Linked DNA regions of Homo sapiens. The protein of the gene in region 1 interacts with the protein of each later gene in a pairwise test. Each region holds a gene or a part of one and is shown on either strand. Other genes may lie near its edges.

What was found. The genes of interacting proteins can lie anywhere in the genome.
Region 2: the proteins of UFSP2 (region 1) and APOBEC1 interact in binary tests that used the Homo sapiens proteins (3 or more experiments, as listed by UniProt).

What each region holds. Positions count from the first base shown.
Region 1 is NC_000004.12:185,422,735-185,430,474, forward strand, and holds the start of UFSP2 (ufm1-specific protease 2), read right to left. Parts: upstream 3,231-7,740; 5' UTR 3,135-3,230; coding exon 3,132-3,134; intron 1-3,131. Other genes in the region: CFAP96 (cilia-and flagella-associated protein 96), read left to right, coding at 6,678-6,777. UniProt on the Homo sapiens protein: Thiol-dependent isopeptidase that specifically cleaves UFM1, a ubiquitin-like modifier protein, from conjugated proteins, such as CD274/PD-L1, CYB5R3, DDRGK1, MRE11, RPL26/uL24, TRIP4 and RPL26/uL24.
Region 2 is NC_000012.12:7,662,669-7,671,311, forward strand, and holds the start of APOBEC1 (C->U-editing enzyme APOBEC-1), read right to left. Parts: upstream 3,241-8,643; 5' UTR 3,205-3,240; coding exon 3,189-3,204; intron 1-3,188. UniProt on the Homo sapiens protein: Cytidine deaminase catalyzing the cytidine to uridine postranscriptional editing of a variety of mRNAs. Form complexes with cofactors that confer differential editing activity and selectivity.

The DNA of each region.
Region 1 (7,740 bases):
AAATTTTAAATCAGGGGTTCTCAACCTTTGTTCTATACTGAAATCACCTGGGGAGCTTGAAATACTGAGGCCTGGGCTGTACCCCCAGAGATTCTGATTAACTGGTCTAAGGCCTAGGCACAGGGATTTTGGTTTTTTGTTTGGAGACAGGGTCTCACTCTGTCACACAGCTGGAGTGCAGTGGCACAATCTCAGCTCACTGCAACCTCCGCCTCCTGGGTGTAAGAGATTCTCCTGCCTCAGCCTCCCATGTAGCTGAGATTACAGGCATACACCACCACGCCTGGCTAATTTTTGTATTTTTAGTAAGGACGGGATCTCAGAATATTGGCCAGGCTGGTCTTGAACTCCTGGCCTCAAGTGATCCGCCTGTCTCGGCCTCCCAAAGTGCTGGGATTGCAGGCGTGAGCCACCGCGCCCAGCTGGCACAGGGATATTTAAAAGTATCCTATGCCCCCATGCCAGTGATTCTAATGTGAATGGTTGAGAACTACTGCTTTAAGACAATCTTTCCAAATTATAATCTTGACAGGTTTAACAATGACAATAAAACATCAACAGTAAAGAACTAGTTTAAGAATGTGACAAGGCACTGAACCTAATATAATACCAGGGAGTCAAGACAATGAGAGGAAACTCATACTGAGGGTGGGATATCAACTGGTGGAATCCTTCAGAGAATATGGCAGTAAGAATCAAAGGTTTATATTCATAGGCTTGATCTAGTGATATGCATTTAGAATCTCAGACTTAGTCTAAGAAAAATCTGAAAAACACACAAAGATTCGGGTACATGGATATTAACCTAACTGCCAACAATAGATTGGTTAAAAAAAATAGGAATATCATATAGCCATAAAAAAATCATGTTTTTGCTGAAAATTAAAAGGCACAGGACAATGCTTACAACTTATAAAGGGAAAAGAGCACTTGCAAAATGGAACTAATCAGTTCTTTACTTGGATCCATATACTGTTTCAGGTAGTTGATGATATATCACAAATGACATGTATCATTGTTTGTGTACACATATATACACACACAGATACACATATTCATACATATATACATACATATATACACACACACACACACGAGAGAAAGAGACAGGAAGGGAGAAAGAGAGCGGGAGATTTCTTTTGGGAAGAGGTTTCAAAAATTTCATGAGACTCTCAAAACATATCTCTCAAACAGGCTGAAGAACCATAGTACACACTAAGACCCCTATTTTGAAATAAATGAATAAGTACTAACATTTACTGAGCTCTTCAAATGTAAAACACAGGCAGGGTGCAGTGGCTCACGCCTGTAATCCCAACACTTTGGGAGGCAGAGGCAGGAGGATCACTTTGAGCCCAGGAGTTAGAGACCAGACTGGGCAACATAGGAAGACCCCCATCTCTACCAAAAAAAAAAAAAAAAATTAGCTGAGTGTGGTGGTCTGCACCTGTAGTCCAGCTACTCGGGAGGTTAAGGTGGGAGGACTGCTTGGGCCGGGGAGGTCAATGCTACAGTGAGCCATGATCACACCACTGCACTCCAGCCTAAGCAACAGAGCAAGATCTTGTCTCCAAAAAACAAAATAAAATAAAACAAAAACATGTAAAAGGCACTATGCTAAACATACATACTTACTCCAATCCTCAGAACAGTATTAAATAGGTACCAATACAGTTTTTCTCATTTTACAAATCCTTTGTCACATTTCTATAAGGGTCACTGTTTTTATTTATTCTAAAATTGTAATCTTTTGAAAGATCATATACCCTTTGTCCCAATTCTACTTCTGAGAATTTATTCTAAGGAAACAATCAAGAAAGTTCAGGACAAATTTAGCTTCATGTTGTCCATTTATTCTACCGTTGTTCATCACAGAAAAATAAATGGAAACCACTTAAATAGCTATTAATAAGAAATCAGTTAAATAAAGAATACTACCAAACAAACTAGTATGTACCCATTTAAATAAAAAATATTTAAAGATACTGAAGATAAAAGTTAGACAGGAAAGAACAAATTTTAACTCTGCTACTTACTGTACAATTTTACACAATTTAACTTATCACTTAAGTCTGTTTCTCTTCTGTAAAACTGGAAAAATACACAACTTCCCAGGGTTGTTATGAAGATTCCACAAGACATCATTCATAAAAGCACTAGTCTTCCTAGACTTCCGAATTAGCTGAGATACTCTCTGAAGAAATAATACTGAGGCTGAGATCTGAAGGGTGAGTGAAGGTGCAATAGCCCATTCCAGGCAGGGCCATCGATGAGTGAAGATCTGCTTAAAAGACCACTTAGGTGACTACCCCAGATGGATAGATCTCAAGGCCAAGGATGGTAAGAGTGGCGACAGTGACAACAGACAGACATTTAGAAGTAGCATCTATAGGACTTGATTATTGACTGCATGTCGGGGAGTTGAGAAGAGGGAGATGTCAAGGATGATTTCCAGGTTTTGGGCAGGCACAACAGGATGTATGGTGGTGCCATCTACAGAGTTGGGGGTTCCTGGAGGAAGAGCAGGTGTGGGCTGTGGGGAAGTGGAAATGCTCAGTTTGGAACTTGCTGAGCTTGAAATACATATGAGCTATCCAAGTGGAGGCACGGTTAGCAGATTTGTGGGTCTGGAGCTCAGAAGAAAGGTCTAACTTAGAGATAAAATTTTAGGAGAACGCATAGGGTGTAAAGCGTCCCTGAAGAGCACCACCATTTAGGATAGGGATTGGAGAACCTTGCTGAGCAATGAGACAGGAGAGAAACCAGGGGAGGGAAATACCACGGGAACTAGGGGAATATAATATCCGAAGAAAGTTGCGCCTGTCCCAGGTTAAGCCCTTCTTGCAAGGCTTCAAAAACGCCGAAGTCTCTCAAAATACTTTCACACAGAGAAGTAGCAGGGGGTGCGTGTCCAAGGTGGCCGAGGCGGGGTGCACACTTGTGTAGGGCACTTTCCCCCCGGCCCAGCGCGGAGACAGGCGAACTGGAGAGCCGCCCTGCCCACGCAGCTCGCAGCTGCCATCTTGGACCCCGGCAGGACCAGCTCCTTTCAGGCGCTGTGAAGCCCGCTCGTGGCGGCTGCCAAAGTCCGGGGAAAAACACAGGGGTCGGTGACGAGCAGAGATACTCACCATGTCCGCGACGTGGCGGTGACACGGGCGCTGACGCCTGCCCAAAAGTTCCGGGGGCCGGCCCTGAAGTGGTGTCACCGCACGGCCCAGGGGCGGGGCCCGGGCGGACCAACTACAACTCCCGACATGCTCGGCGGCATGACGTCACGGAGCGTACCACACCGCAGTCCCTCGCGGACGGCGAGGCGGGGCGGGTAGCCGAAGACTTATGTTTGGTAAATTCTATTAGTTAAGTCTTTTCTGTCCTACAGAAGCTCACACATCCTTCTGTGTGTTCTTCGATGCGGATTCGAATCTCCTCGTATCCTCCCACAGCGTGCTTGGAATGGATTCTCCCGTACCCGGGGCAACACATCACACAATAAACGCCAGCTGTGGTGGAACGTGCAGAGGCGCTGCGCAGCCCAGGCGTGTCGCGCGCTTGGGAACCCTCGCCGCTCCCGCAGCGCAGTTAACGTGGACAAGCTGGGGCAACCTGGACGAGCTGGGGCAACCTGATCTCGGCTGTCGGAGTGGGTGTCCTCAAGAAAGGTGACTTGGTCCTCGCGGACGCCAGGTGTTGCCCCTTAGATACCTGCCACCTCCCAGCCTCCGTTTCCTCTCTGGGAAACAGACTCCTCATCACCTCCTCCAGTTTTCTGCCCCTTCTTCACCTCTCCTGACGCTCCATCCGTACCTTTTGCAAGGGAACGTGCCATAATTCGGCTATGCTCTATTTTCTTGTCTAATAGATTGTAAGCTCCTTGCGGGCAGCATCTATGCCTTCTTAAATCTGTTTCTAGTTTCTACCAGCAAGCTTGCCCCGAAGGGGATTGCAGAATATCTGTTAAATAAGTGAATGAATAATTTTGTAAATGTTGCTCAATAAGAGTTAAGTAGTGGCGGGCCGGGCGCGGTGGCTGACGCCTGTAATCCCAGCACTTTGGGAGGCCAAGGCAGACGCATCACCTGCGCTCACGAGTTCGAGGCCAGCCTGGGCAAAATGGTGAAACCCCTGTCTCTACTAAAAATACCAAAAAAAAAAAAAAAAAAAAAAAAAAAAAAAAAAAATAGCCGGGCATGGTGGCGGGTGCTTGTAGTCCCAGCTACTCGGGAGGCTGAGACAGGAGAATCGCTTGAACCCGGGAGGCGGAGGCTGCAGAGAGCCAAGACAGCTCCACTGCACTCCTAGCCTGGGCAACAGAGAGAGACTCCGTCTCAAAAAAAAAAAAAAATTAATAAGAAAAAAGTTAAGTGATGGGAAAGTTCTAGGCAAGAATTTCTTCCCTCCCTCCTCCCTGGCTCGCTTGTGTGCCGGGAGCTGCGCAGATGCGGGGATACCGTGAGAGGGAGGAACCTGTCTCAGCTCCTGCCCTTGTGCCGTGGAGCTTTGAAATATAAGGTAAATGAAAGTACTAAATCTTGACTGAAGTTTGGTTTTAAAGCATCTCTGATTAATGGAAGAGGTAGGATGTGGGGAAGGGCGTTGTATTTAGTTATGTTTCAGTTTAAAATGAATCTTCACTTGCCCCTTTGGTGTTACGTATTAGCAATGATTCATGCTCAGGTGAGCCAGTTTCAGGCAGGCTTGCAGAGAGGCACTCAAACAGCTTGCTTTAAATTTAAGGTAAAAGGCCGGGCGCGGTGGCTCACGCCTGAAATCCCAGCACTTTAGGAGGCCGAGGCAGGTGAATCACTTGAGGTCAGGAGTTTGAGACCAGCCTGACCAACATGGTGAAACCCCGTTTCTACTAAAAATACAAAAATCAGCCGGGCGTGGTGGCAGGTGCCCGTAGTCCCAGCTACCTGGGAGGCTGCGGCAGGAGAATTCCTTGAACCCAGGAGGCGGAGGTTGCAGTGAGCTGAGATAGCGCCTCTGCATTCCAGCCTGGGCGACAGAGCGAGACTCCATCTTAATAAGCAAAGAAATAAATAAATTTAAGGTAAAAGGTTCTTACCAGCCGGGCGCGGTGGCCCACTCCTGTAATCCCAGCACTTTGGGAAGCCGAGGCAGGTGGATCACCTGAGGTCAGGAGTTCAAGACCAGCCTGGCCAACATGGTGAAACCCCGTCTCTACTAAAAAATACAAAGTTAGCTGGGCGTGGTGGCAGACGCCTGTAATCCCAGCTACTTGGGAGGCTGAGGCAGAAGAATCGCTTGAACCTGGGAAGCGGAGGTTGCAGTGAGCCGAGATCGCGCTATTGCACTCCATCCTGGGCTACAAGAGCGAAACTCTGTCTCAAAAAAAAAAAAAAAATGGTTCTTACTTTGGATTACAAACTGTGAGGACTAACCCAATGTTTGTTTTCTTCACTTATGTATGCCCAGTGCTTAGCTCATAATTGGTGCTTTAAAAACTTTAGAATGGGATAGAGGTAAGTATTCTTAGCTCCTTGGGCCTCTTCCTTTTTAAAAATAACATGTCTACTATTAGAAATTAATTTCTGGCCGGGCGCGGTGGCTCATGCCTGTAATCCCAGCGCTTTGGGAGGCCGAGGTGGGTGGATCACTTGAGGCCAGGAGTTCGAGACCAGCCTGGCCAACATAGTTAAACCCTGTCTCTACTAAAAATACAAAAACAGCTGGGCATGGTGGCGCGTGTCTGTAATCCAGCTACTCAGGTGGCTGAGGCAGGAGAATCGCTTGAACCTGGGAGGCGGAGGTTATAGTGAGCCAAGAACATGCCACTGCACTCCAGCCTGGGACTGTCTAAAAAAAAAAAAAACAACAACAACAACAAAAAAAAAAGAGACTCTGTCTTAAAACAATTAATTTCTAAATAAAGAGTTGCATGTTTAATATTTCACCTTTGTTTGAAGTGGTCATTTCCAAAGAAAGCTCAGAGTTGAAGTATACCTGTTAACAAATACTCAGAATTCATTGTAGAATTTTTGTTTTTGTTCTCGTTTTTATCTTGCCTAAATAATTGTTCTCTTCCCCATTCCCTTTATAATTTTGCCAGTGACACACTTATTATGTTTATTTAAACTTGAAAAAAACCTCAAGAGTTGTAGGGTAATACCTCAATGTGTTGTACATCCTGAAAAGCTGTTATATTTTCAACATAAGGGACAATGCAGGATGCTGAAATCATTGTATTTAAACTGTAAAAATGTCTGCCTTATATAATTATGATTTTAAAATCTACCCTGAACTTCTCAAAAGAAGGATTTGTTTATAATACACCGTACAGTAATAATTTTATCATTTCCAACAGATAAATGGCAGTGTAATCGATGAGATCTTGTACATTCCTTTGTAATTTGTGAGCACTTCATACGGAGAGTCAAGGGGGAGGGCTCATCTGGAGAATTTTGAATCCCAGTATTCTCCCCCACCCCGCAGAGTAGGTTCTTTCCCCATGGAGTATGAGGCTATTGTTTTGTAGTAAACCTTAAACTCTCAGACTGAAAGTAATTAGAACTGGAAATTAGTAACCACTTTTTTCTAAACTTTTCCCCTTTATTTTTATTTTCAATGTAAAGTAGGACTTTGCTATAAAACACGTGACCCTAGGGAAACTTTTGAAGTTAGCGGTATAGAGAGTACCACCACCAGACGCCACCATGCCTGCGGAAGGAGGAAAAACGGACATGGAAAGGATTGGCCTCTTTAGTGAGATGGAATATATTACTGTGGGTGATAAATATGTGTCACAATTTAATCGTAAGTATATTTGCTTTTCTCTATGGACGAATAGTGGGTATTTTCTATATAAAATTTAGAATTTAATATTTAAGTCAAATGATTTTTTAATGGTTTATATTTTAAAGCATTTAGTTCTAAAGTTTGTTAACGTGTAAAATTTCAATGAAGTTAAGCGATATCATTTATTTATTTATTTAGAAACAGGATCTTTGTTACCCAGGCTGGAGTGCCAGTGGCCTGATTATAGCTCACTGCAGTCTCAAACTCCTGGGCTCAAGGGTTCCTCCCATCTTCAGCCTCCTGAGTCTACAGGCACACACTACCATGCCCAGCTAATTTTTAAATACTTTGTGGAGTAGGGCGGGGGAGCTCTCACTATGTTGCCCAGGCTGGTCTTGAACTCTTGACCTCAAGAGACCCTCCCCACTCAGCGTGCCGTAGTGCTGGGGTTAAGAGGCATGAGCCACAGCACCCAGCAAGAAGGTGATTTTATGAGAATAGGAATCTCGTTTTATTAGGGTATTCTATCCTAATTTATTGTCCTCATAGGTAATTTGATTTCTTTTCAAAGGTGCCTGGCAGTTTTCTCCCAGAATATTTTGGTTAGATGGGACACTCCCCTATGCAAACAGCATTTACATTTGCGTCCAAGAAGGCCATCCATTGTTACCTTCCTGAGAAATGAAATGCTAAGTGAATGGCTGAGGGATTTTTACAAAAGTCATAAATAATAAAAAGAGCTAATATACATAAATATTTAAATGTCTCAGTTCAATTTTTGGATATCCAATTACTTCTACATAATAATACAAAATAAAACACTGATTTGGAGATATCTCGAAGATACATTGTTAAATAAAAAAAGCAAGGTGCAGAATAGTCTATATAGTGTGCTCAGCATGAACAATGTGATTCTTCTGAGACAGCATTTAAAAAAATGAAAAAGGATATCTATGAAAATATTCACTTGAACATACCTGA
Region 2 (8,643 bases), on another chromosome or scaffold:
AGAGAAGACATCTATAAAGAGGGACATTAAAGCTGAGACCTGAATGTAAATTTAGAGAGCAAGACATGTGGACGTCGGGGAAGGGGAGAGCTTTCCAAGCACAGGGAACACCAGGTGCAAACGACCTGAAGTGTGGACCTTGACTTGTTCAAGGAAGAGCAAGCAAGTCAGCTTGGCTGGGTCGGAGTGATCAAGACCTGCAATGGAGGGAGATGAGCAATGGAGGGGGTAAGCCACAGGGCCTTACCAGCTCTGGATAGTATGCTAAGTGTAAGAAGCCATTAGAGAGTATGGGGATGATTCAAGGGAGAGTACTGAATTTTAGAGACCTGCGCCTCTCAGGACTCAGAGGCTTGGGGATGTTCCTGGCAATAAAATGGGCGCTGACAAGGCCTGAACCTCTAAGGGTGATTTGGGGAGATGCAGGCAAGAAATTCATCCCACGCTCCTGGCCAAACCTTAACTCGCAGGTGCTATTTTTGAACAGAGAAGAGTCACAGGCTCTGGAAGACACTTCCTTTAAAACAGAGCATGCTTTACCCTAGGCTGTGTGTGTACCTGTTTGTGTGTGTTACTTTTTATGCATTTGCACTGGATGGTAGAGGAGTTGTAGAAAGGACTTGGGCATGGCATGGTTTTTTTGCAGAGAGTGGTTCTAGCTGGGGAGAAGAACTAAAATGAGAAATTAGCCAGATATCTAGGAAATAGGACGAAGTCAGGAAACACTATTCCAAGTGTGACCTGAAGAACAAATCTCTTACTTTTAAAGGAGGAATGGGGGATTTGAGCATTGGGAGGAAGGAGGAAGGGGGTGGCTGGCACGTTGGAATGAGCTCTTCTCAGATCTTAGTGCAAATTGGGGCCCTTGAACCAGTAATCTACTCCGAGGGAGCCTTACATAAACAGAGGCCACATCATAGGAAAAAGGCATTTGATGATGGGAAGACACTTTCTCTGAAAGAGCTGAAGCAGCAGTGAGAAGTTCAGAAAGGGACGGTGAGACATATGCTGTGTCTACACTGATCAATATTATTCCTGGGATGCAAAGACAAGGATACCAGCCACATGACTGGGGACAGTTTGAGGTATAGAACACACCACCTTCATAAGAAAAGTCCAGGGAAGGTATTAGCTACTACAATCAAATAATGTGTTTGGTCTTTCCCCCAGTATGCCACTTAAAAAAGAATTTTTTTTTTTTTCCCGAGATGGAGTTTTGCTCTTGTTGCCCAGGCTGGAGTGCAATGGCGCGATCTCGGCTCACTGCAACCTCCGCCTCCCTGGTTCAAGTGATTCTCCTGCCTTGGCCTCCCAAGTAGCGGGATTACAGGCATGTGCTACCGTGCCCAGCTAATTTTGTATTTTTAATAGAGACGTTGTTTCTCCATGTTGGTCAGGCTGGTCTCAAACTCCCTACCTCAGGTGATCCGCCTGCCTTGACCTCCCAAAGTGCTGGGATTACAGGTGTGAGCCATCACACCTGACCTTAAAAAAGAATTCTAACAGATGAAGAACATAAAGGAGAAAATAAATTGTTACTTCAACTCCAAACTGATATCTATATTACCTTCTGCCCCATCACACTCACACTATTGCAATAGTCTTCTAACTGGTCTCCTTGCTTCCAGTCCAAAACCCATCACATGTCAAGTAAATGTGTCTAAAGCACTATTTTAGTCATATCTCTGTGCTATTCATAAATTCTCCAAAGATATTCCCTCTACCATAAAGAAAAACTTTCATTCCTTGAGCCTGGCATTCGAAGTCCTCTATAGTATAATAACACTTCAAATTTGCTTTCTGGTCTTACTGCAAATTGTTTACATAAATTTTTTGTAGCCTAACCAGTTTATTCATTATATTCCAGACACAAGTCTCTATAAAAGCTTTTAAATTCTGTTCATCAATAGGATTCAATCAACCTGGAATCTCCTCTTCTTTGTCGATCCAAAGTCTGCCCTTCTGGCCTGGCATGGTGGCTTACACCTGTAATCCCAGTACTTTGGGAGGCCGAGGCTAGTGGATCACTTGAGCCCAGGAGTTCAAGACCAGCCTGAGCAATAAAGCAAGACCTCATCTCTACAAAAAAATTAGCAGGGCTGGTGGCCCATGCCTGTTGTCCCAGCTACCCAGGAAGGTGAGGCGGGAGGATCTCTTGAGCCCAGGAGGTCAAGACAGCAGTGAGCAGTGATCACACCACTGTACTCCAGCCTAGGCAACAGGGCGAGTCTTAAAAAAAAAAAAAAAAAAATTTGGTTAGGCATGGTGGCTCATGCCTGTATTCCTAGTACTTTGAGAGACCAAGGGTGGAGAATTGCTTGAGCCCAGGAGTTCCAGACCAGCCTGGGCGAAGTAGTGAACCCACCCGCTAGTCTCTAAAAACAAAATAAGATAAAAATTTTTTTAGGTCTACACTTCTCTTAGAATCCAGCTCAAATCCTAGCTCAGCTGAAATTACTTCCTTCAGCCTGAAGTGTTCTTCCTCTCCCATGCATTTTTCTAACACTGACTGTGCACAAATTTATCAATTAGTTATAGTCAATTCATTTGTCAATTAGCACATTGTTCTCATGCTATCACGTCTGTTGTTACCTTAAACTGTTATTTAAACAGTTGTACTTTTACTTAACTTTTTTTTTATTTTTGTGAGACAGAGTCTTGCTCTGTTGCCCAGGCTGGAGTGCAGTGGCGTGATCTCAGGTCACTGCAACCTCCGCCTCCTGTGTTCAAGTGATCCTCCTGCCTCAGCCTCCCGAGTAGCTGGGACTACAGGCATGCGCCACCATGCCTGGCTAATTTTTGTATTTTTAGTACAGATAGGGTTTCACCATGTTGGCCAGGCTGGTCTCAAACCCTGGGCCTCAAGTGATCCACCCTCCTTGGACTCCCAAAGTGCTGGGATTACAGGTGTGAGCCACAGCGCCTGGCTACTTAATTTTTTATCATGGTGAAACAAACACTGATTTGGTTAAAGTCACTTGGAGATGTAAATATTTACTAATAATAAACCATCTTATTTAAGACTAATATATTAATCAATAATAGGGAAGTTTGAAAACACCCACAGATGCAAGAATCAGCAGGACACACACACACACACACACACACACACACACACACACACACACACACACACACCATTCTTGCATTGTTCAAGAATACTTGCCAAGCCCCCGGATCCATTTTACCTTTCTCAGAAGTCATGGTGCTCTGTCTCTGGACTTCCTCCTCTGGAGTCATAAGTTGTGCTGATTGTTCCTGGACTTTGTTGCTTCAGGTGTGCCCACTGCCACCTGCTTGGGCAGAGGATGACTCATTCCCGCATCTCAGGCAGTTATGGGAATCTGAGCTGTCTGTACAAACAGGGGGCCGACTGAGAGGGACATTATCGTGGGGATTTGCATCTTTAGTGATGAGAAAGCCTATGATGCAAATGACATGAATTTTGTAGGGTGGATCACTGGGTACCAAATTCCAAAGTTCTTCAATGACATCTGAATTTGGTAAACTTTCTCTTTCTTTAAATAAAGATTAAGGCAAGGTGGATCCATCATTCTTTTTTGTTTTGTTTTGTTTTATTTATTTATTTTTCATTATCTCCTACTCTGCATCAAGGATGCATCATTCTTTTTTTTTTTCTTTGAGACGGAGTTTTGCTCTTGTCGCCCAGGCTGGAGTGCAATGGCACAATCTTGGCTCACTGCAACCTCTGCCTCCCAGGTTCAAGCGATTCCCCTGCCTCAGCCTCCCGAGTAGCTGGGATTACAGGCGCCCAACACCACGCCCGGCTAATTTTTTGTATTTTTAGTAGAGACGGGGTTTCACCATGTTGGTCAGGCTGTTTTTGAACTCTTGACCTCAGGTGATCCACCCGCCTCGTCCTCCCAAAGTGCTGGGATTACAGGCATGAGCCACCGTGCCTAGCCTAGGATGCATCATTCTTTAATGGAGAGATGAGAGGAAAAATAAAGTTAAGAGAGACTTAATCTGTAACTATAGCTTGAAAATTTTTATGTTATCTGGTGAGCACACTGTGGCCTTGGCTTTCAGCTGTTATTCACCTATTTCCAACTTCCTCTCATTTTGCTCTCTGTCCTACATCCGTGTTGGAGAGGGGAGGGGAGCTATTAGATACAAAATGAGAAGGACCTTGGCCTCTGAGTCAGCTAATTTGTGTACAGGTCTTTGGTGCTCTCTTCATCCTTGAATCTAAGATTAAGTGTGTGGCCAAGTCCACTTCTGCCCTTTTTTTTTTTTTTTGAGACAGAGTTTCGCTCTTGTCACCCAGGCTGAAGTGCAATGGCGCGATCTCGGCTCACTGCAACCTCTGCCTCCCAGGTTCAAGTGATTCTCCTGCCTCAGCCTCCCAAGTAGCAGGGATTACAGGCACCCACCACCACACCAGGCTAATTTTTATATTTTTAGTAGAGACAGGGTTTCTCCATGTTGGCCAGGCTGGTCTCAAACTCCTGACCTCAGGTGATCCACCCGCCTCAGCTTCCCAAAATGCTAGGATTACAGGCGTGAGCCACCTCTCCCAGCCACTTCTGCTTTTTTATCCCCCTTGAAAAAGTAAATGCCATACTTCCCTATGCCATTGCTCTCTGTTGCCTGAACCCTGGGTCAAGTTCAAGCCAAAAATTCCTCTGAGTCTCAGCACTTACTCCTAGAATTGAGGTCACTTTTTCAAGGCCTAAGTCTCCCTCTAGTGTCTCAAATCTAGAACTCCTGAACTTTGAATCTCAAGGCCCCATGAACCTGAAACCCGAATCCTACATACAAGACTTTACTTAGTTATGAAAGTCAACCTGGAGCCTCCATGAGATAAAGCAGGTGTTTCGACAGGGGCAGACCAGTGTTTTGAAGAAGGGGCAGAAATCCCACATCATCAATAAAGGCCCTTCAGAGACCAAGTTTTTCTAAGTTAGGTAAGAGTAGAATCATTGTAGAATAAAAGTAGGTTAGGCCAGGCGCAGTGGCTCGCGCCTGTAATCCCAGCACTATGAGAGGCAGAGATGGGAGGATCACCTGAGGTCAGGAGTTCAAGACCACCCTGGCCAACATGGCAAAACCCAGTCTCCTAAAAATATAAAAGTCAGCTGGGTGTGGTGGCAGGTGACTGTAATCCCAGCTTCTCGGAAGGCTGAGGCATGAGAATTGCTCGAACCCAGGAGGGAAGTTTGCAGTTAGCCGAGATCTCACCATTGCACTGCAGCCTGGGCAACAGAGTGAGACTACGTCTAAAAAAAAAAAGAAAAAAAAAAAAAGGTAAGATAATAGCCATCAACGATATCCATGTCCTGATCCCTGGAATCTGTTAAACATATGAACTTAAGTGCCAAAAGGGTCTTTGTCGTTAATTAAAAATCTTGAGATGAGAAGACAATCCTGGATTATGCAGGTGGGCACAGTCTAATCACAGGGTCCTTATAAGAGGGAGGTAGAAGAGTCAGAGTCAGGATGCGAAATGGAGATATGAGGATGAGAGCAGAATTCTGCTTGCTGGCTCAAAGGGAGCCACGATTCAAGGAATGAGGAAAGCCTGTAGAAGCTGGAAAAGGCAAGGAATGGATTCTCCCCCAGAGCCTCCAGAAGAAATGCTACCCTGATGACACCTTGATGTCAGCTTAGTGAGACCTGTTTTGTACTTCAGACCTCCAGAACTATAAAACAATGTGTGTCGTTTTATACCATTAAGTCTGTGGCAATTTCATGAAGCGGCAATAGGAAACTGATATGGTAGGACATGCTCCCAGGAAGTAAACATGCAGCAGCCAAGAGGGTGCAAAACTTGGGTTTGTTTTCTACTAGAATGCCTATTGAGCGCTTCGTCCATGTTCTGTTTTGTTTAAGAAAACTTGGAACTATGACATATGACAGACTATCATGTGGTTAATTATTTGTAAGTGAGGTCAAAGATAATCAAGGATGAAATGTAGCTATTCAGTTTAAGTCTGTCCTGCACCTGAAAATTTATGAATTTTGAAAAATGTATACATACACTTATGTAACTACTCCAGTCAAGATATTTAAAATTCCCATCACCCCAAAAGTTCTTTTGTTTTTTTGTTTTTTTTTAAGACAGGGTCTTCCTCTATCGCCCAGGCTGGAGTGCAGTGGCTTGACCTTGGCTCACTGTAGCCTCAGCCCCCCGGGTTCAAGCCATTCTCATGTCTCAGCCTTGCAAGAAGTAGCTGGGATTACAGAGATGCACTACCATGCCCAGCTAATTTTTGTACTTTTAGTAGAGATGAGGTTTCACCGTGTTGGCCAGGCTGGTCTCGAACTCCTGACCTCAAGTGATCCACCCACCTTGGCCTCCCAAAGTGCTGGGATTACAGGTGTGAGCCACCATGCCTGGCCAGCACCCCCCAATTCTGTGTGTTAGCAGCTATCCTCCTACTCCTAGTCCCAGGCAAATACTGCTCTTTCTGTCTCTATAGTTTAGTTTTGACTATTATAGAACTTCATACAAATGGAATCATGCATTGTGCACACTTTTGTGTGTTCTTTTGCTCAGCTTTTCCTTTTTTTTTTTTTGAGACAGGGTCTCACTATACAACTTTTTGTATTTTTAGTAGAGACGGGGTTTCACCATGTTGGCCAGGCTGTTCTTCAGCTTTTCTGTAAAATCGGTCTACATGATTAGGTGTATTGGTGGTTAATTTTCATTGCTGAATAGTATTCCATTGCATAGGTATGCTACGATTTGTATATTCTTCTGTCGATGTGATGTACTTTGGGTTATTTCCAATTTTAGGCTTTCATGAATAAAGCTGCTGTGAACATTTGTATACAATTCTTTGTGTAAACATGTCTCTTTTTCTTCCTCTTGGGTAAATACCCAAGAGTGAAATTGCTGGATCAAATAGGTAAATGCACATTTAACTCTTTTTTAAAAAATTGATTTTATTTTTTATAGGGACAGGGTCTCACTATATTGCCCAAGTTGGTCTTGAACTCCTGGGTTTGAGAAATCCTCCTGCCTTGGCCTCCCCAAAGTTCTGGGATTACAGGTGTGAGCCACTACACCCAGCTACATTTAACTGAAGAAAATGCCAAATTGTTGTTACCAGTTTACATTTTCATCAGGTGTATAAGAGAGCCCCAATTGTTATACAACCTCATCAGTACTTAGTAATGTCAGCCCTGTTAGTTACAATCATACTTGTGAGTGTGTGGTAGTATCTCATTGTGATTTTAATTTGCATTAAAATTAAATGCAATGAACATCTTTTCATGTACTTATTAGTTATTTATATATCTTTTTTCTGAAACTTGTTCAAATTTTTTGTCTTCCCTCCCTACCTCGCCCACCTCCCACCCACCCTGGAGACAAAATTTTGCTCTTGTTGCCCAGGTTGGAGTACAATGGCCCCATCTTGGCTCACTGCAACCTCCTCCTCCCGGGTTCAGGTGATTCTCTTGTCACAGTCTCCCGAGTAGCTGGGATTACAGGCGTGTGCCACCATGCCTGGCTGATTTTTGCATTTTTAGTAGAGATGGGGTTTCATCATGTTGGTCAGGCTGGTCTCAAACTCCTGACCTCAGGTGATCCACCTGCCCCAGCCTCCCAAAGTGCTGGGATTACCAGGTGTGAGCCACCACACCTGGCCTTGTCCATTTTTTAATTGGGTTCTTTGTCTCATTACTGAGTTGTAAGAGTTTTTTACGTATTGTGGATACAAGCTTTGTCATATCTGTATACAAATGCTCCTCAGTTTACAATGAAGTCATGTCTCCATAATCCCATCATAATTGCAAAATATTGTTAAGTTGAAAATTCATTTAATACACCTAACCTGGCCGGGTGCAGTGGCTCATACCTGCAATCCCAGCACTTTGGGAGGCCAAGGCGGGTGGATCGCCTGAGGTCAGGAGTTCGAGACCAGTCTGACCAACATGGAGAAACCCCACCTCTACTAAAAATACAAAATTAGCCGGGTGTGGTGGCACATGCCTGTAATCCCAGCTACTCCAGAGGCTGAGGCAGGAGAATCACTTGAACCTGGGAGGCAGAGGTTGTGGTGAGCCGAGATCGTGCCATTGCACTCCAGCCTGGGCAAGAAGAGCAAAACTCTGTCTCAAAAAAAAAAAAAAAAAAAAATACACCTAACCTACCAAACATCATAGCCTAGCCTACCTTAAACATGCTGAGAACACTTATATTAGCCTACACTTAGGCAAAATCATCCAACACAAGACTATTTTTAAATGAAGTGCTTAACATTTCATTCAATTTATTGAATACTGCACTTAACAGGAAAAATCGAATGGCTGTATGGGTACTTGAAATACAATTTCTACTGAATGCATATCACCTGTACACCATTGTAAAACTGAAAAATTCTAAGTCATGCCATCATTAAACTGGGGACTGTCTGTATATATTTCCCTTAGTCTCTGGTTTGCTTTTTATTTTCCTTAATGGTGTCTTTTGAAGAGCAGAAGTTTAATGAAGTTTTAGTAAAGTTCAGTTTATATCGATTGGATTACTTTTTATGGTTAGTGCTTTTTGTCTATGAAATCATTGTCTACTCAAAAGGCACAAAGCTATTCTCCTATATTTTCTTCTGGTACTTATATATTTTTAGTTTTAGCTTTTACAATAAACCTATGATACATTTCGAGTTATTTTTGTAT